Linked DNA regions of Homo sapiens. The protein of the gene in region 4 interacts with the protein of the main gene of each other region in a pairwise test. Each region holds a gene or a part of one and is shown on either strand. Other genes may lie near its edges.

Region 1 (7,155 bases), on a different chromosome or scaffold from region 4:
CCTCCCAGGTTCAGCAATTTTCCCTGCCTCAGCCTCCCAAATAGCTGGGATTACAGGCGCCCGTCACCATGCCTGGCTAATTTTTGTATTTTTAGTAGAGACAGAGTTTCATCATGTTGGCCAGGCTGCTCTCGAATGCCTGACCTCAAGTGATCCACCCACCTTGGCCTACCAAAGTGTTGGGAATACAGGCGTGAGCCACAACGCCTGGCCAAGAGCAATTGTTATAATTGCTATCACCAATAATTTTTTCATATTTCTGTGGCCACACTTAAATGAGTCATCAAATGATTTGATATTGTGTGGATAATACTTAATATGAAAACTTTTAAAATATGTTGTCCCATCTCAGTTACTTAAACTTACCTTCCTACTATCCCAAAGGTTAGGCAGATGACAAATGCTGTTTTTCTTCTGTCTCTCTCTCTCTATATATATGTATATATGTATTCTGAGACAGGGTCTTACTCTGTTGCCTAGGCTGGAGTCCAGTAGCACAATCAACCTCCCAGGCTCAAGCGATCCTCCCATCTTAGTCTTCTGAGCAGCTGGGACTACAGGCATACGTCACCATGCCCAGCTAATTTTTTGTATGTTTTTGTAGAGATGGAGTTTTGCCATATTCCTCAGGCTGTTCTCCAACTCCTGGGCTTAGGGGATCCACTTGCCTTGGCCTCCCAAAGTCCTGGGATTATAGGCGTGAGCCACCATGCCCAGCTCTCCTCAATACTGTAGTGCTGATTACACCGAGAGTGTAAAAACCATTTGAAATACTTAATCATTGCTTTGAGGACACGAACAGTAACATAGCAACTTAGGGGTGGAACAAATTTTAGAGAAAGCATTGTTTACTTATTAGAAAATTATTTATGTTGATTTAACCTGATTTAACCAACTAGACTACTTTTTAAAATCTCTGGGGCCAGGCACGGTGGCTCAGGCCTGTAATCCCAGCACTTTGGGAGGCCAAGGCAGGTTGATCACCTGAAGTCATGAGTTCAAGACCAGCCTGGTCAACATGGTGAAACTCTGTCCCTAGTAAAAATACAAAAATTAGCTGGGCATGGTGACATGCGTCTGTAGTCCCAGCTACTCGGGAGGCTGAGGCAGGAGAATCACTTGAACCCGGGAGGCAGAGGTTGCAGTGAGCCGAGATCGCACCACTGCACTCCAGCCTGGCAACACAGCGACATTCCGTCTCAAAATAAATAAATAAATAAATAAATAAATAAATAAATCTCTGAACACACAGATATTGCTTAAATAGCTTGAACCCGGGAGGCAGAGGTTGCAGCAAGCCAAGGTCGCACCACTGCACTCTAGCCTGACGACAGAGCGAGATTCCGTCTCAAAAAAAAAAAAAAAAAAAAATCTCTGAACACACAGATACTGCTTAAATAGCACAAAGTTCAAAGAAACCTTGATTTAACCAAATCAAACCACTGTGCCAAGGTCAAAACAAATCAAGATCATTCAAAAGGAGCTGAATAAAAAGAGATAATTAAACTAATGCAGGTTTGAGATCAGGTATTTGCCTCTTTGAAGAGTGACCCTGATTTTGTCTGACCTCAGAAAGGTTGTTTCTCTCTGAGCTCTATTTCCTCTTCAAAACATTGAGAGGCTTGTGTCTGTGCAATTTTAAAGTGTTTTTGGATCTATAACTTGGGATTTTGTTATAGTGGCTCCAAACTGTAAACAATTTGACCAAAAGTATCATCTTCATCTTAAGATTTTAACTGGGCGTGGTGGCTCAAACCTGTAATCTCATTTTGGAAGGATGAGGCAGGAGGATCTCTTGCAAGACCTTCTCTTTACAAAAACAAACAAACAAACAAACAAACAAATAAAAACCTAGCCAGGCATAATGGCACACACCTGTAGTTCCAGCTACTCAGGAGGCTGAGGCTGGAGGACTGCTTGAGCCCAGGAGGTTGAGGCAGCAATGAGCTGTGACTGCACCACTGCACTCCAGCCTGGACAACAGACTGTCTCAAAAAAAAAAAAAAAGTTATTGTACTTGGATCTTGTACAAAGGAATTGAATTGTTAAATGCTACTTACAGCAAATATTTATTTATTTTTATTTTTTATTTTTTGAGACAGTCTTGCTGTGTCAGCCAGGCTGGAGTGCAGTGGCACAATCTTGGCTCACAGCAACCTCCGTCTCCTGGGTTCAAGCAATTCTCCTGCCTCATCCTCCTGAGTAGCTGGGATTACAGGCATGTGCCACCACACCTGGCTAATTTTTGTATTTTCAGTAGAGACAGAGTTTCACCATGTTGGCCAGGCTGGTTTTGAACTCCTGACCTCAGGTAATCCGCCCGCCTTGGCCTCCCAAAGTGCTGGGATTACAGTTGTAAGCTACCACGCCCGAGCAAATACATTTTTAGTAAAGTTCTGAGGCAAATGATGAAAACAGGGTTAGTATAAAATTTAGTATTTAGTTATTTGAATTTTTACTGACCTTTTTTAGGCCTGACACAGTGGTTTATTCTTTTTCTTTTCTTAGAGACAAGATCTCACTCTGTCATGCAGGCTGGAGTGCAGTGGTGAGATCACAGCTCACTGTAGCCTCGAACTCCTGGGTTCAGGTGATCCTCCCACATCAGCCTCCTGAGTAGCTGGGACTACAGGGATGTGCCACCACACTGGCCACTTTTTAAAAATTTATTTAATTAAAAACATTGGCTGGGCATGGTGGCTTACGCCTGTAATCCCAGCACTTTGGGAGGCTGAGGCGGGTGGATCAACTGAGGTCAGGTGTTCAAGACCAGCCTGGCCAACATGGTGAAACCCTGTCTCTACTAAAAATACAAAAATTAGCCAGGCATGGTGGCAGGAGCCTGTAATCCCAGCTACTCGGGAGACTGAGGCAGGAGAATTGCTTGAACCCAGGAGGCGGAGGTTGCAGTGAGCGGAGATGGCACCACTGCACTCCAGCCTGGGCAACAGACCAAGACTCTGTCTCAAAAATATATATATATATATATTTTTTAAATAGAGATAAGGGGACTCTCCCTGTTGTCCAGACTGGTCTCAAACTCCTGGCCTCAAGTAATCCTTCTGTCTCAGCCTCCCAAAGTGCTTGGATTACAGGAGTGAGCCACCTTGCCCAGCCCGACACAGTGGTTTAGATCTGGCTTTTTTTTGTATGTAATATAACACTTCATAGCAGGCATTTGGTATTAAATGAATTAGGTAAGATGTACTTCACACTGAGGTTTCGAAACCGCGTGGCATGACATTTTAATCCACAGTACAAATCTGTAAAGGAGGGCTTTATCGTCAGCACAGAGCAGGAAAAACCTAAATAGAATGAAGGCAGCTAAGATGATTACTCAATCATTAATTAACTATGTTGTCCAATCACCGCAGTTTCGACCTCCCTTTGGCTTCAAAAGTCAAAAAAGTCAACTTGCAAAAAAAAAAAAAGTCTACTTGCTCTGAAAGGAAGTTTGAGTTCTTTACCTTACTGTAAACTCTTAGAAGAGGAAACAAAACTGCCATTTAAATGTGCTAATGAACTTGAGCGTGACTATGCTGTGAATCAGCGAGTTTCAAAATTAAAATTCCTCTGAGTCCTCCAGTCAAAGACAAAGGCCTCCTTCTTGGCTTGATCACACTATTAACATGTACACATATTTAACCACCTCTTTTTAAAACCCCTTATAATTTACATCTGAAACACGAAGACGAAATGTGAATGAAATACTGCGATGAACATTAACCGCCCCAGCTCCCAGTGGTGGTACGGTCTCAACAGAGGACGATGACTTCTATGGTCTCAGGTAATCTTCACAAAACCCGAGGAGAGGAACTGTCAGTCCCACCCCACGAAAGCGGCTACTGAATCTCAGATTGCCCCACGATCCTGGCTCTGCGAGCGAGGTCACGTTCACAACGGCGGGAATTTCCGTAGCGGTGACACACGGCACTTCCGGCCGGCCGTGAGAGTCGGTGACGTGGCGGCGAGGCCGGGCACGGTCGTCGGGGTCGGGGCACCAGGAGCTGTCAGGTGGCCTCGGGGCAGCCCGGCTGGCAGAGAAGAGTTCGCCGGCGCGGCGGCGGCTGCTGCGAGCCCGGAGCCGGAAGTGCCACGTGTCCTGATTGCGGCTGCGCGGCCGGCGGCTGACAGGCACTTCCGGCCAGGGCCTCCCTCCTTCTCTCTAGGTTTGGCTGCCGCCTTCTAGCCGGGCGTTCGCGGCCCCGCCGGCCCGACTCTCAAGCCTCAGCTCCCAGGCTAGGCTGTGGCCGCCGGTGGCCTGGGGAGAGTGCGGCGCCATGCCTCGGGCTTAATGCGCCCCCCCCTCTTCTCCCAGTCTTCAGTCTTAAGTCGTTAGCCTCCTCCCTCCGCTTTCAGCAGTGGTCTTTCAGCTCTCTTCTTGTGCGCTGTTGTCGACCCCGACCAGCCCCTTCCAACCCAGTCATCATGTCCCAGCCGGGAATACCGGCCTCCGGCGGCGCCCCAGCCAGCCTCCAGGCCCAGAACGGAGCCGCCTTGGCCTCGGGGTCTCCCTACACCAACGGTGAGTGCTGTCCGGGGGGAGGGCGCAGCCTGGCCAGGGCTGACTGACCTTTGCGTGCCACTGCTGCTTGAGGCGACATAGATAGAGAGAGTGACCTCCTTACCGGGTTCTGGCGCGGATGGTGGTGGGCGGCTGGGCCAGGGGACCACGGCAGTTGTGCACCTGTAGCCCCAGGCTCGTCTCAGTCTTTCACATTTATTTAGTCGGTCACCAAAACAGTAAATGAGCACCTGCTGTATGCAACGCCCTGGGTGAAACACGGGTGAGAAAATGCCTCAAAACTCGAATATAAGGATCATAGTGTTTGTGTGCCTTCGCCTTCCTTGCCACCTCACCCCAGTCTCCTAGAGAGCAGGATGTGGGGTCTGATTCTTCTGGGTTCCGCAGGCCCTGAAGTGGGGTGGGGGTCGTACTCAGTCTGAGTTTCTGGAGATGAATGCATGCTTTTGGGACACCCCTTTAGGGCCTACTCATCTCTCCCAGAACCTTCCCAGAATTGTACCTACAACAGCTGTTCAATGTTTCAGCTGTGGAAAAACCAAATAGAAGGGAGGATCTCCTGGTTGACTTCTAGATGTCTGGACAGCATTTGGAAAGTGGGTGGACACAACTCTCTGAATCTCTGACAAGAGTCTACATGTACATTATAGTTTGTCATTTGATGTGAGAATGTCTTATAATTTTATACCTCTTCTAGGATTCCTTAAATCGTCCTACATTGTGATTTGCTAAGATTATTTCAGTTGTTACAATAGACAAAGACTTTCTGCCGACAGATTGCCTACTTACCAATTTACTTACAAATCTTTGGTTTACAGAAATAAGACTAGTAGAATAATGCTAAAGAACTTAAGTTGCCCATTAGAGTCTAAGAGTTCTGTGAAGTTGGAGAATACAGACAGTGACTAAAATCTCTAATTTACATTGTTTTTAGAGAAGACCGCTGTTTTCTTTACAAAGATGGCTCTAAAAGACTTTTAAAAATGTCTGTGAGTAGGCAACTATGTGGGCAGAAGAAAGAATAAGTGGAGGAAAGCCACTGAAAGGGTACTGAGTTAACCATTCTTTCTCAAAATTATGGTAACAGATTATGTACACTACATTTTATTCTAGAATATTTAGTAACATTTACACTGAGGATGAGAAAAAATGTTACATGGCTATGGATTTTTCTTATAATCTATAAATTGCAGTTTTACATTAACTTTAAATGACAAATCCTCAAATGTGCTTCAACATTTATATATGAGTGTAGTTGTCATAATATTGAAATGTTAAAGGGATTTGACCACTGTGGTATGCTGTATTAGAGATACTGTCACTATGTTGATTTGATACAGTCCAACAGACATTTGTTCCACATCTTTTTTTTTTTTTTTGAGATGGAGTCTTGTTCTGTTGCCCAGGCTGGAGTGCAGTGGTGGTGATCTTGGCTCACTGCAACCTCTGATTCCTGGGTTCAAGCGATTCTCCTGCCTCCTTAACCTTCCAAAGTGCTGTAATTACAGGCCTGATCCACGGTACCCAGACCTCTTTTTTAAAATATAATTTTCATAGTCTTTTTATAAGTTCCATTTCTACAGGGTTTTTTGTTTGTTTGTTTGTTTGTTTGTTTTTTGAGACGGAGTTTTGCTTTTGTCTCCCAGGCTGGAGTGCAATGGCGCTATCTCGGCTCACTGCAACCTCCTCCTCCCAGGTTCAAGCAATTCTCCTGCCTCAGCCTCTGAAGTAGCTGGGATTACAGGCACGTGTCACCACACCCAGCTAATTTTTATATTTTTAGTAGAGACGGGGTTTCACCATGCTGGTCAGGCTGATGTCAAACTCCTGACCTCTAGTGATCCACCCACCTTGGTCTCCCAAAGTGCTGGGATTACAGGCATGAGCCACTGTGCCTGGCCTCTACAGGTTTTTTGTATTTTGCCTTTTTTTTTTTTTTGAGACAGGATCTTACTTAAACTGTCCCTCAAGCTGGAGTGCAGTGGCAGGATCACAACTCACTGTCACTCCTGGGCTCAAGCAATCCTCACACCTCAGCCTCCCCAGTAGCTAGAACTACAGGTGCATACCACCAGGCCCCATTTTTTATATAAGTATATAATATATATATATAATGTATATATTTTATTATTATTTTTTGAGTCAGAGTTTCACTCTGTTGCCCAGGCTGGAGTACAATGGCTCGATCTCGGCTCACTGCAACCTCCATGTCTCAGGTTCAAGTGATTCTCGTGCCTCAGCCTCCCGAGTAGCTGGGATTACAGGCCTGTGCCACCACAACCGGCTAATTTTTGTATTTTTAGTAGAGATGGGGTTTCACCATGTTGGCCAGGCTGGTCTTGAACTCCAAACCTCATAATGATCCGCCCACCCTGGCATCCCAAAGTGCTGGGATTACAGGCATGAGCCACCACGCCCGGCCTAATGTAAAGATATATGTATATTATATATATAATGTTTTATATATATTTTGTAGAGATGAGTCTCTCTATGTTGCCTAGGCTGGTCTGAAATTCCTGACCTCAAGTGATCCTCCTGACTCAGCCTTCCAAAGTGCTGGGATTAGAGGCATGAGCTACCAAGCCTAGCCTGGGTTGTTTTATTGTTCATCCTGCTAATAATACAGAGAG
Region 2 (5,848 bases), on a different chromosome or scaffold from region 4:
GGCCTTCAGGTAACACTGGAGAGTGGCCCTGTCCAGTTGCCCTCAATTACCAAAGAGCTGTTAGAAAACAGCAGCTGAAAGACTCAAAAAAAGAGAACTCAGGTCTGTCACCCAAACTGGGTGATGGTGATCAGGTGCTTCCACGTGGATACCCTTCAGTCTCACTGGAGAGTGGCCCTGGCCAGAGACCTGCAGTTGCCTCCATGTTCACATGCTATCTGCTGAGTCTCAAGTTGGAAAAGGGAAAGAGAGAGAGGAAAAGGTTCCCCTGTATGGAGTGGAGCCCTGCACAGAGATATAGCTCCAGCCCATGCCGAAAAATGAAGGCTTGACAGGGAAAGAAAAAGGAAAGAAGAAAAGAAAAATAACCGCCCCCTTCCCCTGCACCGCAATTTGGACTTACCTCCAGGCTGGCTTGCCAAAATATGTTACTGTCGGAGGGTCTTGACTACAATTTGTCCAGGTTCTTGGAATGTTGAATGAAGAACTGAACAAATTGCACAAATCAATGAAACAATGAAGCAATAAAAGCACAGATTTATTGAAGCAAAAGTATATTCCACAGAGTGGGAGCAGGCTAAAGCAAGCTGCTCAAGAGCCCCAGTTGCAAAATCTGGGGTTTAAGTACCCTTTAGGGGTTTCCTATTGGTTACACCCTATGCGCCACCAATCGGAGGCCGAAGTGAAGGCTCCCAGTCTCCAGACTCTTATTCTCCTAGCTCAAAGAAATCCACTGATTTCCTCTGTAGCATCTTCAGGTTCCATCTTGACAACTTCCTCTAAATCCCCAGGGGAAGAGTTGTTTAGAGACTCCTGGATGCCCTGAGGGAGCGGCTCCAGAGCTTGCCTTCCCTCCTCTGTTTTCACAACGGTCCAGCGATAGGCACTGTTCTCTGACAATCCTTCTTGGCACTGTTTATCGACTGGTGGAGGCCCTGGGCTATGTTCCACTTTGGGGAAAACAGTAGCAGAGAGAGGAGATAGTTCCTGGGGCTCTAATTTGGGTTCTAGGCCCTGAAAGGCATTTTCCCCATCAGCCACAGCACAAGCAATGTCCACATTCATGTGGGCCTTATCTTCAGGGGTGGATGGTATAGGAAGATTCACAGAATTGCCAGAAACAATTAAGGGTGAGACAGAGGAGGCCACAAGGGGCTGGTTCAATGGACAGGGGAAGGAAGTAGGGTTAACCAAGAGGGTGGCGATGGGAATAGTCTGGGGACTCTGGGCCACAGCCGCATTGACAGGCTGGATCATGTTACAGCCACCGCCAAGGCTCACAATCTTCACAGTGGTAGCAGGAACAGTGAAGATAACAGATGCAGGGTGGATAACAGGGGCAGGTTTGATACAGCGAAAGGCCCTGGCTCCCCTTCTTTTTGAGGGTCTCCGTCTCACATATGGCTTTCGAAACATGGAAGAGGCAGGGGAGGGCATCATTACCTTGGGCACAGGGGCAGAAGAGAGCAAAGTCTGGGACTCAGACAGAGGGAAGCTTGTCCTGGCCTCAGGGGGCATAGCAGGCAGTGCTGCAGGAGACTCAAAACTCTCACCTCCACTGACCCCCAGTGGAGGGACACCTGGAACTGTCTGTAAAACAGTGGCTGGCTGTATTGGGTGAGGAATCCGGAGCACCATTTTGCTCGGAGGGGCTTCTGAATGAGTTGATTGGGCTGGTGTTTTCCCAGGGTTGAAGCTGGGCTGGAGAGAGGGGCTGGGTTGGATAAGGAGGGGTTTCAGGACTGATGAACGCTTCTGTCTCCAAGCCTTCTTGGGGAAACGGTCGGCAACTGGCTTCAGTTTCAGGACTACACCCTTAGGCAATAGCAGTGGGTACCGAGTTTCACTCCCCAACTCTGAGTTGTCTTTTTCTAGGCCTTGATCTGAGTTGATCTCAGTGGTTCCAGTCATATTTCCTACCTCTCTAGCACCATCAGCCATGTGCCGCAGTTCTTCCTGGATGGATGGCAGACTGGCCTATTGGAAATGAGAACACTCTGATCCAGCACATGTCAGAATTTGGGAAAAAGAATAGGACTTTCTAAGTTTAGGGACCTGAGACAAGCTCAAGGCATCTTTCCAAGGGACTCTGCATATGAAATTTCTACAAAGACCACAGTCCAATTATACACTTTAGAAACTCTTCTCTGAATTTCCTTTAGCAAATTACCATTTTACCCATTATTTTGAAAATGTTGTAGAATCACCCGGAGAAGGGCAGAAAAGTAAGGGAAGAAAGGTGAATCAGGAAGATTCCTGAAGTCCTAGTTCTACAACTAAAGCATTAGACGATTAAGGAAGTCCTTGATATTCTCTCAGAACTTTCAGTGACCTTCTGCCTCCTACAGACTTCGAGGAAGAGGGCTGTACCTTTAACCAGAATGGGAGCCGGTGTTCTTCTCTCTCTATAGGTGGCTTCCACTGATGTGGCTGGATCTCTTCACAGCATTTTCCTAGGACTGGCAGCTGTTTGGTCTTCTTATAAAACTTAACATGAAAAAAATGCGCATGAATTACATTCCTTCTGGAAACACTGTCTTCTGTCAGGCTGGTGAATGGGGTGGTGGTGGATCAAGAGAAACACACACACACACACACACACACACACACACACAAGACCACATACACAAACATCCATGAACACACATATACGAATAGCATATGCTGAATACTTGTACATTTCAAATTAAACTAATCTCTATTTAAAGATTTTATAGTTATTCAGTATTTTCTTTTTGAGACGGAGTCTTGCTCTGTCGCCCAGGATGGAGTGCAATGGCGCGATCTCCGCTCACTGCAAGCTCCACCTCCCAGGTTCACGCCATTCTCCTGCCTCAGCCTCCGGAGTAGCTGGGACTACAGGTGCCCGCCACCACACCCGGCTGATTTTTTTGTATTTTTAGTAGAGACAGGGTTTCACTGTGTTAGCCAGGATGGTCTCGATCTCCTGACCTCGTGATCCACCCGCCTCGGCCTCCCAAAGTGCTAGGATTACAGGCGTCAGCCACCGCGCCCAGCCCTATTCAATATTTTCTAACTGATGATCTCCATTCTGGTTGCCAGGAAGGGGAGAGTTTAGGTCACAGAGAGAAAAGGAAGCAGATGCTAAGAGCAATCTTATGTAAGATTTGTTCCTGCTCAACAGCTGCAAAGACAGCATCGTAATCTATAAAATGGACACATCAAAGACTTTAAGCAAATGATGGTGTGAAGGGCATCAGAAGGGAAGGAAAAAAAAAAAGACCGAGGCAGTTCAGTTTTAAGAGTAAATAGGCTGGCCTTGGTGGCTCACATCTGTAAACCCAGCACTTTGTGAGGCTGAGGCGGGCAGATCACTTGAGATTGAGAGTTTGAGACCAGCCTGGCCAACATGGTGAAACTCCATCTCTACTAAAAATACAAAAATTAGCTGGGTGTGGTGGTGGGTGCCTGTAATCCCAGTTACTTGGGAGGCTGGGGCAAAAGAATCGCTTGAACCTGGCAGTGGGGGTGGTAGGGTGGAGATTGCAGTGAGCCAAGATCATGCCACTGCACTCCAGCGTTGGTAACAGGGTGAGACTCCATCTCAAAAAAAAAAAAAGAAGATAAGAACTGAACTTAAACCATGACAATAAGCATCTGTTCATCCAACATGATGAACATAAGATGTTTTCTATATCCTAGGCACTGTGCTAAAAGCTAAGCACACACATAAGGGAAGCAATTCCTGCTCTCATGGAGCTTACAGACTAGTGGGAGAGTCAAGTGGACAAATGGCATCCTACATTAAAAAATGTACAAAGGGCTGGGCATGGTGGCTCATGCCTGTAATGCCAGCACTTTGGGAGAACGAGGAGGATGGATCACTGGAGGTCAGGAGTTCATGACCAGCCTGGCCAACATGGCGAAACCCTGTCTCTAATAAAGTACAAAAAAAAATTAGCTGGGTGTGGTGGTGCACGCCTGTGATCCTAGCTACTTGGCAGGCTGAGGCAGGAGAATCACTTGAACTGAGGAATTAAGAGGTTGCAGTGAGCCAAGACTGCACCACTGCACTCCAGCCTGGGCAACAGAGCAAGACTCCAACCCCGACACCCCGCCCCATCCCCCAACAAAAGTACAAAGGTGTGCACGAAAAATGACACAAAACTAAAACTTAAACACAAATTACTTCTGGCCAGGCGTGGTGGCTTATGCCTGTAATCCCAGCACTTTGGGAGGCCGAGGCAGGCAGATCACAAGGTCAGGAGATCAAGACCATCCTGGCCAACATGGTGAAACCCCATCTCTACTAAAAATACAAAAATTAGCTAAGTGTGGTGGCGCGTGCCTGTAATCTCAGCTACTCGGGAGGCTGAGGCACGAGAATCACTTGAACCCAGGAGGTGGAGAGTGCAGTGGGCCGACATCACGCCACTGCACTCCAGCCTGGCAACAGAGTGAGACTCCATCTCAAAAAAAAAAAAAAAAATTATTTCTGCAGAAGAATAAGGTTTATCACGTGTGCCTTAAAACCATGGATACGCCAGGCATGGTGGCCCACACCTGTAATCCCAGCACTCTGGGAGGCTGAGGTGGGTGGGTCACGAGGTCAGGAGTTTGAGACCAGCCTGACCAACAAGGTGAAACCCCGTCTCTACTAAAAATACAAAAATTAGCAGGGTGTGGTGGTGAGCGCCTGTAGTCCCAGCTCCTCGGGACGCTGAAACAGGACAATTGCTTGAACCTGGGAGGCAGAGGTTCCAGTGAGCCAAGATCACGCCATTGCACTCCAGCCTGGGCAATGGAGCGAGACTCTGTCTCAAAACAAACAAACAAACAAAAACAAAAAGAAAGTACTTTTTAAAAAACCATGGATAAAAATAGACAAATACTAAGGCATATTATCATGCATTTTCAAAATATTGAAGCCAAAGGAAAAATCCTGCATGCTGTCAGAGGTTGAGAAAAACAGGTGTTACACAAAGACTCAAGAGTTAAATGGGGCCATGGCTCATGCCTATAATCCCATTACTTTGGGAGGCCAAGACAGGACGAGCACTTGAGGCCAGGAGTTTGAGACCAGCCTGGCCAACATAACGAGACCATGTCTTAAAAAAAAAAAAAAAAAAAATTAGCTGGGCATAGTGGTGCACACCGGGTTGGAGACACCAGTGAGCCATGATTTAGCCACGCTCCAAACTGGGCAACAGGGTGGGACCCTGTCTCGGAAAAAAAAAAAAAAAGTTAAATGGCATGAAATTTCTTAACACCACACTAGGAGTTAGAAGAAAATGAAGTGAGGCCCTTAAAAGCTTCTTAAAAAAATTATTTCCTATCTAGAATTCTAGATACAGTGACAGAGGAGAGTATTATTTTTTCCTTTTATTTTGAAATAATTATATTCATAGGAAATTGCAAAAAATAGTACCAAGAGGTCCCATGTACCCTTCAACCAGTTTCTCCCAATATAATGTTTTTATGTTACATAGAAACAAGAGCTATACATATAAACAAGGTACACAGTACAATATTACTACCAGGAAACTGGCCAGACATGGAGGATGTGGTGGCTCATGCCTGTAATCCCAGCACTATGGGAGGCCAAGGTGGGCAGATCACTTGAGGTCAGGGGTTCGAGATCACCTGGCCAACATGGCAAAACCCCATCTCTACTAAAAATACAAAAATTAGCTGGGTGTGGTGGCTAATCCCAGCTACTCAGGAGGCTGAGGCAGGAGAATCGCTTGAACCCAGGAGGCAGAGGCTGCAGTGAGCAACAGTGAGACTCTGTCTCAAAAAAAGAAAAAAAATAAAACAAAAACAAAAACGAGGAAACTGACATCGATACAATCAAAAGACCATGAATGGAGATTTTTTTTTTTTTTTT
Region 3 (7,915 bases), on a different chromosome or scaffold from region 4:
CCCTGAGAGTTACTCATTGATTTATACATGGTCCATTTGTACAAAGAATTGTACAAAGAATTATCCTCACATGATGTACAGATTTATCTAGGGCCAATCCTAGATAAGGATATGTGAATTTAATTCATTTATAAATTTAATTCTTTTTTTATTCAATGTTTACAATAGCCTTACACCACTAATTAACAGCAAGAACAAGACTCACAGTAAAAATAAAACAGGAAGTGTTTGTTTTAGTCTATATTTAAAAACCAAACTTGTATTGCATGCAATAACCAAACTAGTGATGTAGAGTTCTGCTATGAGAGCCTTTTCCAAATGATCCTGTAATCTCAAGCCATTTCATTATATAATGATCATTCAATGCTTTCAAATCTCCTCTTTCAGAACATCTTATGTCTCTGAGCCTGAGAACTGAATAATCACATACAAGTCAAAATAACACACTGTACCTGTTGGAGATGCTGTGTGCGACGGATCCCCATAGTGCCCATAATGAGGTGGAGAAAGGCCTATTCCAGGCTGAGGCTGAGAATACGGAGGTGTAGCCACGTAACCTTGTTGACTCATTATGAAAATATCATTCCATAGGATAATTCTACAAAAGAAGTCTGCAACAGAGAAACAAGAAACATGTTACCAAGACAGTTTTAGTTACGTAAAGCTATTAAAAATATAAACACTGTTATTACATGTTTATGATGGTTTGAGGAAAAGTACAGATATCAGGTACATGAGAAATCTTTGTATTATACAATATATCATTATCCCCTAAAAAGGGCCTAACCATAGCTCTCTGAAACTCAGTAAATCACTTCAATAATCCTGGGCAAATTCTCAAGCATGAGACCTGAATAATAACTCGCAACCACTTTTTTAATGGAAGCCTGAAGCATCTCACAGATAGTCTCTCATAGTGTTCCTATGATTTTGTGCTTTTGGTTTCCATGGTCACATTTCAGCACAGAGCACACCATGCCATTCAATTGACTGACCACCATAACTGCCAGTAGCCTGCAATCAGATGTTTTATGACTTACGTCTTTTTAGTGCTCATCTAATTAATTATTTTAATCTAGTCATTAGGACAAAGAGAAATCATAGTCCAACAAACATAGCAACAGACAACGTTGATAATGGGCTTATTTTATGAGTCATAATTTGACCGAGCCAGGTGGTCACTATAACCACTTGAGTGTTGTCAGTGGTTTTTCAAAGGCGACAGAATTTCTTTCTAATTTAAATCATATCACATCTCTAAGAACATATGCACCTATATTTAGGGGACTAAGGAAAAAAAGTGTAATTTTGTAAGTGTGTAGGCACACACATCACAAATATAACAGACTCATCTTGATTTTTTTTAAATCTTGATTCTAATCAGAACCCAAATTTGCTTTAAATTTTCTATTTTTTCCAGGTTTTAACAAAATAAGAGATATTTCATAGGACTGATGATTTAAAAAAAAAAATTAAATACGACAGAAAATGCTTTGAATGCAAGAGAAGTGGGTTTCCATTCTATGTCTGCCATACTTAACTGTGTGACATGGAATGAGCTGAAGAACCTCTCTAAGCCTCAGTTCCTTCTTTTAGAAAATGAAGCCTTTCCAGATTTCCACTGATTCTACAATTTATCTCCAGTTTATTTGCCCCATACAAGCATATTCTTCCTTTTGTTCTTTTATTTGCTACAATTTAAGATAAGAGATCAGTGATACCTGCTAAGACTTAGAATCTGTCTATATTCAAGAAATAACATTTCAAATTAAAAATTTGAAGCCTAAAATTTGTGATTTGATTTTGTTTCCATATTAAACTATAAGTTTCCAAAATAAAAGCAACCATGTAAAAATATTATGAGATCATTTCCTTCTCCTGGGAAGGGGAGAACTGAAAAAGAGGAGAGAGGCAGGCAAAGGCCTTCTGGTCCACTTTGTTTCTGACAACCCCTTTTTCCTCCTCCCACTTAGCAGAGAGAGACGTGGCAGCCTGAGCGCTGGTCAAGCTCATCCAACCAAGAGCACTTAGGAAGTCGGCACGAACACACCTAAGTAGCAGCCTGTTGCTGAGTGACAGAAAAGAGAGGCTGAGATGGTCACTCCAAAGAACAGGAAGCAGCCAGTTCCCTCTGAACTGGTCCTCAGAGGAATCAGCTTCCTCACGCAACCCAGTTTGCCACGTCAAACTTCCTCACACAGAGCACCAAGTTAAAGAAACCTGACTCAGCTTCAAGCGGCGACACGGCAGAAAGCCACTTGGTATAAGCAGGCCTAGGATCAAAATCTGGGGAGCCCCAACCCCAGAACGGCCCCCTGGCTCACTGTCACCCAGCAACTCTAGCCAAGGTGCACTTCTAACCCTGGAACAAGTTCGTATTTGGCCAGATCAGTTTCACTATTCGGATGTCCCGAGGCTTCAAGATATAGTTGCCATTTTTACCATGAATATTTCTAACATTTCCTTCCTTCAAAAAAGGAAATTAAGTTGATAAGGAGATGAGAAAACCGCTGGCAATGACACTCGAATGGTGGCCACTGAGGATCCTAACAAGGCAGTTCCTGCATCCCAAGGCAAAAGGTGGGGGCGGGTAAAAAATGCCCACGCCCACCTCCTGCTCCCCCATCCCGCCGGCCCCACTATTAAACTGCACTAGAAGGCTAAAGAACAAAGAATGAGTTCTCCTCCCGCCGCCACTGCCTCAGGTGAGCACCCGGCCTCCCGCCGCGTCCCCGGGCCGGGCGCCGCAACCCGCTCCGCTGTGCCTGGGCAGGGCTGTCCCGCATGAAGGCGTCCGCGGGTGGGAGGCTTTACCTGTTCCCGCTCCCGCACCCCGCGGGCTTCCGAGCGCTGGCGGCTCTGCGCCTAGTGCCGGCAGCCCTCGGTGGCCGGGCTCCCGCTGCGGTCGCTTCTCCCGCCGCGCCTCTTCCCCGGCCGGCGTCCCCTTAGCCTGGACTCACGCTCGGAGTTGCAGCTGGGCTGGGAACTGCCACGTCAAACCCTTTCTCGGCTGCGCGCCCCCAGCGCCGGGCTTGGACCAGCCGCCGCGCTCCCGCCTGCGCACGCGCACAGCCACCGGCCGCCGCGGGGCGGGGCCACCGGGCTGAGCCTGCGAGCGGCCGAGCGACCTCCCCCTTTTCGCTTTTTCCCTTTTTCCGGTTTTTTGTTTTTTGGTTTTCTTTTTCCCGTCTTTTCTTTCCCCTCCCCCTACAGGTCAAAGCCTTTAACGTCGTGGCTAAATCAGAACCGTATTTTCTCGGCGCAGCCCCGCAGGAAGGAGGGGAGCGCGTTCATTCATTCTTCCATCAACAGGTTGCAGTTTCAGCTCTTCATTCATTACGTATTACTTAAATAACTAATAGTTCAGGTACTGCACTACCGTTACATACGGGAAAGTACACGATCTGGACCTAGGGGAGATTACCGTTTAAAGGCGAATCTGGCACGTGTACACGCACATTTGATGACGTACCCGTGCAATGCACTACAGAGGAAGGAACGCCCAAAGCAGCCTGGCAACGTGTAACGCGGGAGGAGTGGGGGGTGGGGGAGATGTCCCAAAGGAAAAGTGTGGGAAGTGGGGTTTCCATTGATATTGGGGTTGTTAGCGTTGTGTATACTCCTTCTTCCGCATATTCCTTGTTTGTGAAGTAGGATGGCTGATCCCAGCCCCAAACAGGAATCTCTGCATGGAAAAGCACCCAGCGTTTAGCTCACCGTCCTGTGAGAAACAGCTCAGAAATAAAGGCAACCTATATGAGATCTGGAGCTTACCTCTCTATCTCACCCTAAAATCAGGACCATCTGGCTGGTTTCCTATCATCTTTCACTGCTAAATAGAAAGACATTCAGCCACTCCCAGGTTTGGTATAGCTACCACTTTGCTCAAACTTACAAAGTAAAAACCAGCCCGGTGTTGTTGTTTTTAACATGCACTTTCTTCCCGGCTACAAGAAAGCCACTTGACAAATACCTTTACTGATGAACTGCCTAGGTAAAAACGTACATGGGGATGTTGCTACTCCCGAAATGCTACATGAATTGTGCAGGAATTTTAAGTCATTTTAGCAGTAAAGATATATGGTCCATTTATCCCACTCTTAAAAGTTTTTAAGGCATGGGGCAAGGCACAGTGGCTCACACCTGTTATCCCAGCACTTTGGGAGGCCAAGCAGGGAGGATTGCTTGAGGCCAGGAGGCAGTGAGCTATGATCACACCACTGCGTTCCAGCGTGGGCAACAGAGTGAGACCCTGTCTCAAGAAAAAGAAAAAAAGATTTTAAGGTAAGATATCTGGCCTACATCCAGCTTCAACACTGATCAGGTTTGAAAACCCACATTGAAATTTTTGTTTTAAATTGTTTCTTGTATTCTCAATGTGATGAAAATGTTCAGTGGAAGTTTAGGAAGTTTTGGCCGGTGTTGAAGCAGTACAGCTTGTAAAAGCAGTGAAAGAACTTGTCATATAACAGCTACATTACAAGGAGCGAGTGAAGCTATGATACAAAGATAGGAGAGAGTAAAGTCAGAAACAGTCACACCATGTGATGACCTGCTTGACTTGTTACCCCTATAAAACCACTACTTTTGAATTGTAAATACATCCTCACCTCCTGCTCAGGTACCAAACTTGTCTGAAACCAGGACAATTTGTGGTTTCAATTCTAAAACAGTTTTTAATTCCTAAATGTTAAAGCTGGAAGGGACTTGGCCGGGCGCGGTGGCTCACGCCCGTAATCACAGCACTTTGGGAGGCCGAGGCGGGCGGATCACGAGGTCAGGAGATCGTAGACCATCCTGGCTAACACGGTGAAACCCCGTCTCTACTAAAAATACAAAAAATTAGCCGGGCATGGTGGCGGGCACCTGTAGTCCCAGCTACTCGGGAGGCTGAGGCAGGAGAATGGTGTGAACCCGGGAGGCAGAGCTTGCAGTGAGCAGAGATCACGCCACTGCACTCCAGCCTGGGCGACACAGCCAGACTCTGTCTCAAAAAAACAAAAAATAAAATCTGGAAGGGACTTTAGCGATATGAGTATTCAATTCAATATTCAGTGAGAACTGAATTCAATTTAATCATCTAATGGATTAATAGAAAGGTTTATTGAGAAAATTTAAAAGGCTTACTAGTCATTTATAGCTAGTTGGAAGTCATCCCTTCCAATTCCAAAGCTCTTTTCACCTCCCTATGCTTTTTACCTTCTGATACTCTGATTTGCTGTTCTCTTTTAACTAGTTCTGCCTTTTTCTCCTGTGACTGCCTTATATTCAAGTTCTCAAATAACTATTAACTGACTGCATAGTTCCACCAACAATTGGAGTTACTTATCATGAATCTCTTTTTTAAATGAAACGGGCTTCTGGTTTGCGTCCTGCTTCTCTTGTCCTGTCCCCAAGTGCCTATGCCTTAGGTGACTAACTCCTAACCTTGTTCCTGTGATTGAGTCCCTGGCCCTCACCAGCCGTGAGGCTTGGTCCGGAGTCTCAGTCTTCCTTGATCTGACCCATCCTGTTGCCACCTGAGCTTAGCCTCTGATGTTCCATATGTAATTAACTTAGTTTCCCAGGTAACCATATCCTATTTGAAAGGTGAGGTCACAAGGACCTCACAATGCCGACGTACTGGGGTTTTATGTTCTATGTTCCAACTTTAAAAGGGAAAGAAAGCAACAAGTCTACTATGCATAAGGCTATATATAGAGAGAAGGAATTTCCTGACAATGCTTAAGATTTCTTCTAATTGGCAACCTTTTGAAGGTTATGATGTACTAAGCATTTATGTAACTTACAAAGTTTGGAGGTTTCTGGTTCCAAAGCTGAAAACAGCTTGAAGAAGCTTTATTTAAAAAAAAAAAAATTGAAGTGGCCAAATCCTGGACTATTTTAAATACCTGGAAATGGAGTAAATAAGGTCAAGTTAAACGGGGATGATGGGAAGGGTACATGGTAGGGTAGGCTGAGTAGCAACTAATAACAGTAATAATAGAGTTCAAGTAATACCCAAGGTGCTTCTAGAATTACTTTTTTGATATCTCAAATATCATGCTGTAAGTATACTACATCACATACAGCTTCAATCACAAAATGGACAGTGGGACATCACACTGCTAACTCAGATTGACTCAGGTTTGAATCCTGACACTGTCACTTACTACTAGCTGTGCAAGTTTTACTTATTCAACAAACGTTTATTAAACACCTACTATAAACTGGATACTGTACTAAGAACTTGAATACAAAGTCAGATGAGACACTGCCCTGGCTGTGAGAAGCTCATGGAATAGTGCAAGGATCAGCCAGTGGCAGCTGATATGCTATATTTGGCCTACCCACCTGTTTTTGTACAGCCTTCGAGCTAAGAATGGCATTTACAGTTTTACATGGTTGAAATTTTTTTTAATATTTTGTGACACATGAAAATTATGTGAAATTCAAATTTCAGTGGACATAAATAAGTTCTCTTGGAACACAGCCATGCTTTTCTATTATCATATATTCTGTGGTTGTTTTTGTACTATAAAGGTAGAGTTAAGTAGTTGTGACAGAGACCATAAGGCCTGTAAAACCTAAAATATATACTATCTGGCCGTTTACAGAAAAAAGTTTGGTGCCCCCTGGTCTGGCAGGATGTGCAATTACAATATAGTTCATTTTCATTCCATGAAGAGACACAGGTTGCCATGAGAACATGTAAGAAGGGACACTTAACCCAGATTTGGAAAGTGAGTGACATCTCCCTGGTGGAGGTGGCACCTGAGCTGAGGACCTGAGGACAGTAATAAGGCCAAAAAAAAGGCTGAAGGGCAGCAGGGAATAGCATGAATGAGTTGAGGAAGATGAGGAACATAGGGCATTCAGAGGGGCTATAAGTCCTGTACAGCTTGGACATGGGTTTCTAAAGCAAACGAGATTAGGCAGGTAGGCTAGGGTAGCTCATGGATCCCTCAAAGGCACTGGAAAGGCAATGGAACAATTTAAGCATGGGAATGACACAGTGGATTGTTTTTTTCTTTCCAGAAAGATCAGTCTGGAGTTAGTGAAAGAGTGGAAGAGAGGAAAAGGCAAGACTGGTGGGGTAAAGAAGAGTTAGGACACTGTCAGCAATAATCCAGATGAGAATATGGTGGCCTAAGCAAAGGCAGTGGAGATGTGGGTGGAGAGGACAGACAGGTGGGAAAGAGGTTTAGAAGGCGTATCAATGGGACTGGGTACAGAAATCAGGAAAGTGAGGCAGAATACAGACAAACACTCAGATTTTTGATCTGTGAGAATTAGTGGATGAATGGTAGAGCTATATAAGGGGTGAGGGAAACAAAAACGAGAGCCGATATGGGGAGGGGATGGGTTCAGTTTTGGAGAAGTTCATTTTGAGCTATCTGTGGGACATCTACGTGGAAGTGTCCAGTCACCTGTGAGATACGTGTGTCTGCAGCTAGGAGACAAATCTGAACTGGAGGTAGTATAAGGCAGCCAGCAATGAAAATTTAAAAATCAATCTGGCAGGCAAGAGATCAATCAGGCTCTGCAGTCAGACCAAGTCATGACTTCTGGTTCTGTCCTTTATAAGCTGTGTGTACCCTCCCTAAACCTCAGTATTTTTATCTTTAAAAATTGAAGGAATAATAATAATAATCTCAAAGGTCGTTGTGGGGATTAAATGAGATAATACAAGTAAATCACTCAGCACAATGTTTGGCACATAACAACTGATCAATAACGTTACCATTGTAGCATCATCATCCCAATCATTATTAACAACATGTAAGTGACAGTTGAAGCCATATGAGTAAAGTCAAAGGATGAAACCCCTGGGAACCTAGAATAGATGCATGTTCTAAGTTTACTAAACCTTGGTTTACTCACTGTAAATTAGGAATATTATATTTCTCTCATTGTCATGGAGTAAAAAGGGTTA
Region 4 (7,027 bases):
AAGAAAGCAACTGTGTACACTTAAAATAATCTGTGGTTTAGTTCCTTATTAGTGGTTGCTTTCATATACTCTCAGATGTTCACTGTTAGTAACTGATGTGCTAGAACATACCACAGAAATATTCTGCATTTAACAGTGAAATTGGCTGGGCGCGGTTTCTCATGCCTGTAATTCTAGCTCTTTGGGAGGCCGAGGCGGGCGGATCATATAAGGTCAGGAGTTTGAAACCAGCCTGGCCAACATGGGTGAAACCCCGTCTCTACTAAAAATGCAAAAATACCGGGGGGGCGCAGTGGCTCACGCCTGTAATCCCAGCACTTTGGGAGGCCGAGGCAGGGGGATCACAAGGTCAGGAGATCGAGACCATCCTGGCTAACACGGTGAAACCCCGGCTCTGCTGAAAAATACAAAAAATTAGCCGGGCATGGTGGTGGGTGCCTGTCGTCCCAGCTACTCGGGAGGCTGAGGCAGGAGAATGTCATGAACCCGAGAGGCGGAGCTTGCAGTGAGCTGAGATCGCTCCACTGCACTCCAGCCTGGGAGACATAGCAAGACTCGGTCTCAAAAAAAAAAAAATAGAAAAATTAGCTGGGCGTGGTGGCGCACACCTGTAATCCCAGCTACTGGGGAGGCTGAGGCAGGAGAATTACTTGAACCTGGGAGATGGAGGTTACAGTGAGCTAAGATGGCACCATTGTACTCTAGCCTGGGCGACAGAGGAAGACTTCACCTCAAAAAAAAAAAAAAGTGAAATGGTGCTATCGAAGGGTCAAAATGAGGAATGGCACTGAATAGGTTCTCTGGTTTCAGAATGACCTTTTAGGGTAGGAGAAGGCTATTGTTTTTAAACCCAGAAGAAGAGAGAGAGAGAGTGTGTGTGTGTGTGTTTTCACTCAAAACAGCATAACTGATAGAATTGTACTTTTGAATTGTACTTTTGATGCTTTTATCTTTGATTTCATTGACCCTGTAAATGGGTAACCGCTTTCTCTTTGGCAAAAACATGGTAGTTCACACAGGCAGGAGGGGAAGGGAGCATCATGTGAGTCAAGAAATGGTCGTATGACCTAATTGTCTGGAAAGGACATAACCATATTCAAGAAATCAAACATTACTGTCTCGGCTTAAGCAATTGACATGACTTCCCTACATTGTATAGAGGCTTAATCTAAATATTATAGGCAAATAAAAATTCTTAACTGGGTACCCTGCTATAGGATGAGCAGAGCTCATACCCCATGACTGGTTAGCAGGTAAACAGTATAATTATTACTTAACAAAAGATTTTAGATCTTTGCTTTAGGCAGTCACTTAACTGGCTTGTGTATACAGTCTTGAAAGGACATTGAATTCTGGTTTGAAAGAAGACATTTTAGGAAATCAACTTCTAACCTAGATATATCTGCTCTAGAGGTAAGAAATTAGCTCTGACAAACACTCGTGAAATTACTTTTAAAATGCACAGTGAGTAATCGGAGCCGCTTGGCAATTTACCCTTGGTAGACCACCTTTGCAGTAGCTAAGTTAAACTTAGTGGCTTATTCCTGAAAGGCCTCATTTCCGAGTGTCATCAGATGTATGAAGTCCCATTTGATACTCTGATGCAACAGTATATCCAAGCCATATCTGGAGGGTTTTATATATGAATTGGGTTTTGATAAGTCATCCTTTTTTTTTCTTTTCACTTGTTACCACTTTAAAACAGCTGTCTGTCTCATAATCAGTGGCAACTGCTTTTTCGACTGGAAAAGGGTATGGGACCTATTTCAGCTCAGGAAAAGTTAGTACTTCACACCCTCTCTGGTTTTTCTGGGTTGGTTGGTTGGTTGGTTGGTTTTTGAGATGGAGTGTTGCTCTGTTGTCCAGGCTGGAGTGCAGTGGCGAGTGCACCCACCACCCAGGTTCAAGCAATTCTCCTGGCTTAGCTTCCCGAGTAGCTGGGACTACGGGCATGTACCACCATGCCCGGCTAATTTTTGTATTTTTAGTAGAGGCAAGGTTTCACTATGTTGGCCAGGCTGGTCTCGAACTCGTGACCTCAAGTGATCCGCCTGCCTTGGCCTCCCAAAGTGCTGGGATTACAGGTGTGAGCCACCGCACCCGGCCTGCCTGTTGATTCTTTGGACTTTGCTTAAAATATTAATAGCTCTAACTCAGTCTGCTGCAGCCTTGATGTAAAGTGTTAGGGCCAAGAGGTAATAGAAACCCCTGGAGTTTTCCTTGGAACTGAGATTAATTTTCGTCATTTAACAGGGATACTTACTTCCAGGTTCATCTGAGCAGGGACTTGGGAGGGGTCTCTTTGCCTTACTCTGGTGTTTCCATTACGGAGACTTTGAGCCAAGTTAGATTAGTTTATGGCAGCCCAGTTTAGGAAATGATTTTTTTCTGGTTGGTTGGATGGTTTGGTTGGTTTTTTTTTTTTTTTTAAGATGGAGTTTTGCTCTTGTTGTCCAGGCTAGAGTGCGATGGCACAATCTCGGCTCGCTGGAGCCTCCGCCTCCGGGGTTCAAGTGATTCTCCTGCCTCAGCCTCCTGAGTAGCTGGGATTACAGGTGCCCGCCACTCTGCCCAGCTAATTTTGTGTGTGTGTGTGTGTTGTTTTTTTTTTTTTTTTTTTTTTTTTTTTTTTTTTTTTGACAGAGTCTTGCTCCGTCGCCCAGGCTGGAGTGCAGTGGCGCCATCTCAGCTCACTGCAAGCTCCGCCTCCCAGGTTCATGCCATTCTCCTACCTCAGCCTCCCAAGTAGCTGGGACTACAGGCACCCACCATGATGCCTGGCTAATTTTTTGTATTTTTAGTAGAGACAGGGTTTCACTGTGTTTGCCAGGATAGTCTCGATCTCCTGACCTCGTGATCCTCCTGTCTCAGCCTCCCAAAGTTCTGGGATTATAGGTGTGAACCACCGCTACCAGCCAATTTTTTGTATTTCTAGTAGAGACGGGGTTTCTCCATGTTGGCCAGGCTGGTGTCCAACTCCTGACATCATGCAATCCACCTGCCTTGGCCTCCCAAAGTGCTGGGATTATAGGCATGAGCCACCGCACCTGGCAGTTTGTTTTTTTTGAGATGGAGTCTCTCTGTTGCCCAGGATGGAGTACGCGATCTAACAGCTCACTGCAGCCTTCACCTCCCATGCCCCAGCAGTCCCTCCCACCTCAGTCTTCCAAGTAGCTGAGACCACAGGCATGTACCACCATACCTGGCTAATATTTTTCTATTTCTGTAGAGGTGGGGTCTCCCTATATTACCAGGCTGGTCTGAAACTCCTGGGCTCAAACCATCCTCCTGCCTCAGCCTCCCAAAGTGCTGGGATTTTTTTTGTTTGTTTGTTTTTGAGACGGAGTCTTGCTCTGTCGCCCAGGCTGGAGTGCAGTGGCGCGATCTCGGCTCACTGCCAGCTCCGCCTCCTGGGTTCACGCCATTCTCCTGCCTCAGCTTCCTGAGTAGCTGGGACTACAGGCGCCCACCACCATGCCTGGCTAATTTTTTTTTTTGTATTTTTAGTAGAGACAGGGTTTCACTGTCTTAGCCAGGATGGTCTCAATCTGCTGACCTCGTGATCCGCCCTCCTCGGCCTCCCAAAGTGCTGGGATTATAGGCATGAGCCATTCTCGCCTGGCCTTGACCTGGTCTGTTTTTAATAAATGAGAAACATAAACCCACAAATTCTCTAAATTTATGATGCCATGGACTTACGTAAATGTTACTTCAACCTAAAACTTAACATTATTGTTAGTTTCTGGTCTTCAGCAGTCCCCTTTGAGAAAAAGCATTTATTCCCTAACAGATCACTTCTCCCGGATCACCTAAACTGGTAGCACACAATATCGCAACGCACTTTTATAGCGTTTACTGTGATGAATGGAGCATATTAATGTCTCTTCTGTGGATATGATTGATTCTCCCCCTTCCTTAGTGTTGTCTTCAAGCAAATATAGTTGGACCGACACTGAGTTTGATGTAGTTTACTTTAGGATTGTATTTATTATTGTATTTATTTCCAGGCTTAATCATAACATTGCTTATTGCTCGTAGCTTTGTAGCATTCTTACCCAGGAGTTTTGTGGTTGACCAACCACACAAAAAAAGTCACTTTTTAATTTTATTTATTATTTCTCCTCTTAGACCGCAGGATGGAAACAAGCCCACTGAGACTAGTCAACCTCAATCTAGCACAGGGGGTTACAACCAGCCCAGCCTAGGATATGGACAGAGTAACTACAGTTATCCCCAGGTACCTGGGAGCTACCCCATGCAGCCAGTCACTGCACCTCCATCCTACCCTCCTACCAGGTCAGTCTACTTTTTGTGGCAAAACAAAAACAGTGACAAAACAGTTTTTTTCAGGTTGTTGACCAGCTTGCTTTGACTTCTTCAGCTAAGGTATGTTATCTGACTGTCGCAGTGATAAGTCATCTGACCATACTTGGTTACATTAAAGCCTGAGATCTAGGGTCCCATAGTGTTGCCTGGCAGCTAATAACTATTCTTTTTTCTTTTTTTTTTTTTTTCCCCCGAGACGGAGTCTCTCTCTGTCGCCCAGGCTGGAGTGCAGTGGCGCGATCTCGGCTCACTGCAAGCTCCACCTCCTGGGTTCACGCCATTCTCCTGCCTCAACCTCCCGAGTAGCTGGGACTACGGGTGCCCGCCACCACGCCCAGCTAATTTTTTGTATTTTTAGTAGAGACAGGGTTTCACTGTGTTGGCCAGGATGGTCTCAATCTCCTGACCTCGTGATCCACCCATCTCGGCCTCCCACAGTGCTGGGATTACAGGCGTGAGCCACCGCACCCGGCCCAGCTAATAACTATTCTTTCTAAATACAAAAACATTTTTACCACTCTAAGTTCTTTCTTTAAGTTTCTTCCTTTTGCTGTTTTAGTTAACTCAGATGGGAAGCAGAAGTATATGAAAGCATGTAAATAGATGTAAGAGCCATCTTCCCCAATGCAGTTAGGATAAGTAAAGCGCAGGGCATTATAATTCACCTTAATCATTTTACATTTTACCTAACACATAAAGGTTTATTCATGCACTAACCTTTTAATGTATGGGCCAACTCTTTTTATTTTATTTTTATTATTATCGCCTGGCCAAGTTTTCTTTTTTGAGACAGAGTCTCACTCTGTTGCACAGGCTGGAGTGCAGTGGCACGATCTCCGCTCACTGCAACCTCTGCCTCCTAGGGATTCTCATGCCTCAGCCTCCCGAGTAGCTGGGACTGCAAGTGCATGCCACCACACCTGACTAACTTTTCTTTTTGTTTTATTGTTGTTTTGAGATGGAGTTTCGCTCTTGTTGCCCAGGCTGGAGTGCAATGGCACAATCTCGGCTTACTGCAGTTTCCACCTCCTGGGTTCAAGTGATTCTCCTGCTTCAGCCTCCTGAGTAGCTGGGATTACAAGTGCTCACTACCACACCTGGCAAAAATTTTTTTTTTTGTATTTTTAGTAGAGACAGGGTTTCACCATGTGGGCCAGGCTTGTCTGGAATTCCTGACCTCAGGTGATCCACCCGCCTCCACCTCCCAAAGTGCTGGGGTGACAGGCGCGAGCCCCTGCGCCCAGCCAGTTTGTTTGTTTGTTTTGAGATGGAGTTTTGCTCTTGTTGCCCAGGCTGGAGTGCAATGGCGTGATCTTGGCTCACCGCAACCTCTGCCTCCTGGGTTCAAGCGATTCTCCTGCCTCAGCCTCCCTAGTAGCTGGGATTAGATACAGACGCCACCACAACCGGCTAATTTTGTATTTTTAGTAGAGACGGGGTTTCTCCATGTTGGTCAGGCTGGTCTTGAACTCCCATCCTCAGGTGATCCGCCTGCCTCGGCCTCCCAAAGTGCTGGGAATACAGGCATGAGCCACTGCGCCTGGCCCAGTTTTTGTATTTTTAGTAGATACAGGGTTTCACAATGTTGGCCAGGCTGGTCTTGAACTCCTGGCCTCAAGTGATCCGCCCACCTTGGCCTCCCAAAGTGCTGGGATTATGGGATTACAGGTGTGAGCCACCATGCCCAGCCTGCAAGTTTTCTTAACCCATGTTTAATTAGATGTGGGTTTTCAAATTGTTTGAATTGTGCCCTGAAAGTTTTGCTAGAAGTAGCGGTTCCCTTTTTTGCACTCATTTCATTGTTTTGCAGCAGATGTGAACAGGTTTAGGAACAAGTAGAATTGATTGGGTGTCTCTCCATACAGCCAGCTTGGAGCAAAAGTGGGTAGGGCTTACAACCCTTCTTCCACAGAGCAGGTTCGTACCTATTGCATTGAGAGCAGTTAATAGCAGTTAATCTGGCAAGTTGGATAGGTACACAGTGAGAGATTATTGAATTCATACAGCAATGGTGAGGGATGTGGTGTGTTAGAAGCTTTGTTTGTTTGTTTATTTTTGGAGACCGGGTCTCACTCTGTTGTCCAGGCTGGGGTACAGTGACACAGTCGTAGCCCCCTGTAGCCTCGAACTTCCTGGCCTAGTTTAATCGGACTTTAAAATATGTGTCCTTACTGTTTCTCATCATGATTTGTAAAGCTTAATACCAGATGGGTTTTTTTGTTTTTGTGTGTGTTTTGTTTTGTTTTTTTGAGACGGAGTTTCACTCCTGTTACCTAGGCTGGAGTGCAATGGTGCGATCTTGGCTCACCGCAACCCTCGCCTCCCAGGTTAAAGTGATTCTCCTACGTCAGCCTCCCAAGTAGCTGGCATTATAGGCATGTGCCACCACACACAGCTAATTTTGTATTTTTAGTAGAGACGGTGTTTTTCCATGTTGGTCAGGCTAGTCTCGAACCCCTGACCTCAGGTGATCCACCCGTCTCTGCCTCCCAAAGTGCTGGGATTACAGGTGTGAGCCACTGCTTCTGGCCCTTGTTTTTTTTTTTTTTTTTTTGAGATGGAGTTTTGCTCTGTTGCCCAGGTTGGAGTGCAGTGGCGCTGTCTTGGCTCACTGCAGCCTCTGCCTTCCAGGTTTAAACAGTTCTCTTGCCGCAGCCTCTCGAGTAGCTGGGACTATAGGCGTGTGCCACCATACCCAGCT

What was found.
Region 1: the proteins of EWSR1 (region 4) and SEC24A interact in binary tests that used the Homo sapiens proteins (3 or more experiments, as listed by UniProt).
Region 2: the proteins of EWSR1 (region 4) and YY1AP1 interact in a two-hybrid assay, tested with the Homo sapiens proteins (2 studies listed by BioGRID and IntAct).
Region 3: the proteins of EWSR1 (region 4) and SEC24D interact in binary tests that used the Homo sapiens proteins (3 or more experiments, as listed by UniProt).

Annotation. Positions count from the first base shown.
Region 1 is NC_000005.10:134,644,649-134,651,803, forward strand, and holds the start of SEC24A (protein transport protein Sec24A), read left to right. Parts: upstream 1-4,136; 5' UTR 4,137-4,428; coding exon 4,429-4,525; intron 4,526-7,155. UniProt on the Homo sapiens protein: Component of the coat protein complex II (COPII) which promotes the formation of transport vesicles from the endoplasmic reticulum (ER).
Region 2 is NC_000001.11:155,658,937-155,664,784, forward strand, and holds the end of YY1AP1 (YY1-associated protein 1), read right to left. Parts: intron 2,488-5,848; coding exon 2,371-2,487; intron 1,998-2,370; coding exon of another isoform or gene 1,978-1,997; coding exon 721-1,977; 3' UTR 518-720; downstream 1-517. UniProt on the Homo sapiens protein: Associates with the INO80 chromatin remodeling complex, which is responsible for transcriptional regulation, DNA repair, and replication. Enhances transcription activation by YY1. Plays a role in cell cycle regulation.
Region 3 is NC_000004.12:118,833,127-118,841,041, forward strand, and holds the start of SEC24D (protein transport protein Sec24D), read right to left. Parts: upstream 3,001-7,915; 5' UTR 2,815-3,000; intron 612-2,814; 5' UTR 571-611; coding exon 453-570; intron 1-452. UniProt on the Homo sapiens protein: Component of the coat protein complex II (COPII) which promotes the formation of transport vesicles from the endoplasmic reticulum (ER).
Region 4 is NC_000022.11:29,278,262-29,285,288, forward strand, and holds part of EWSR1 (RNA-binding protein EWS), read left to right. Parts: intron 1-4,128; coding exon 4,129-4,296; intron 4,297-7,027. UniProt on the Homo sapiens protein: Binds to ssRNA containing the consensus sequence 5'-AGGUAA-3'. Might normally function as a transcriptional repressor. EWS-fusion-proteins (EFPS) may play a role in the tumorigenic process.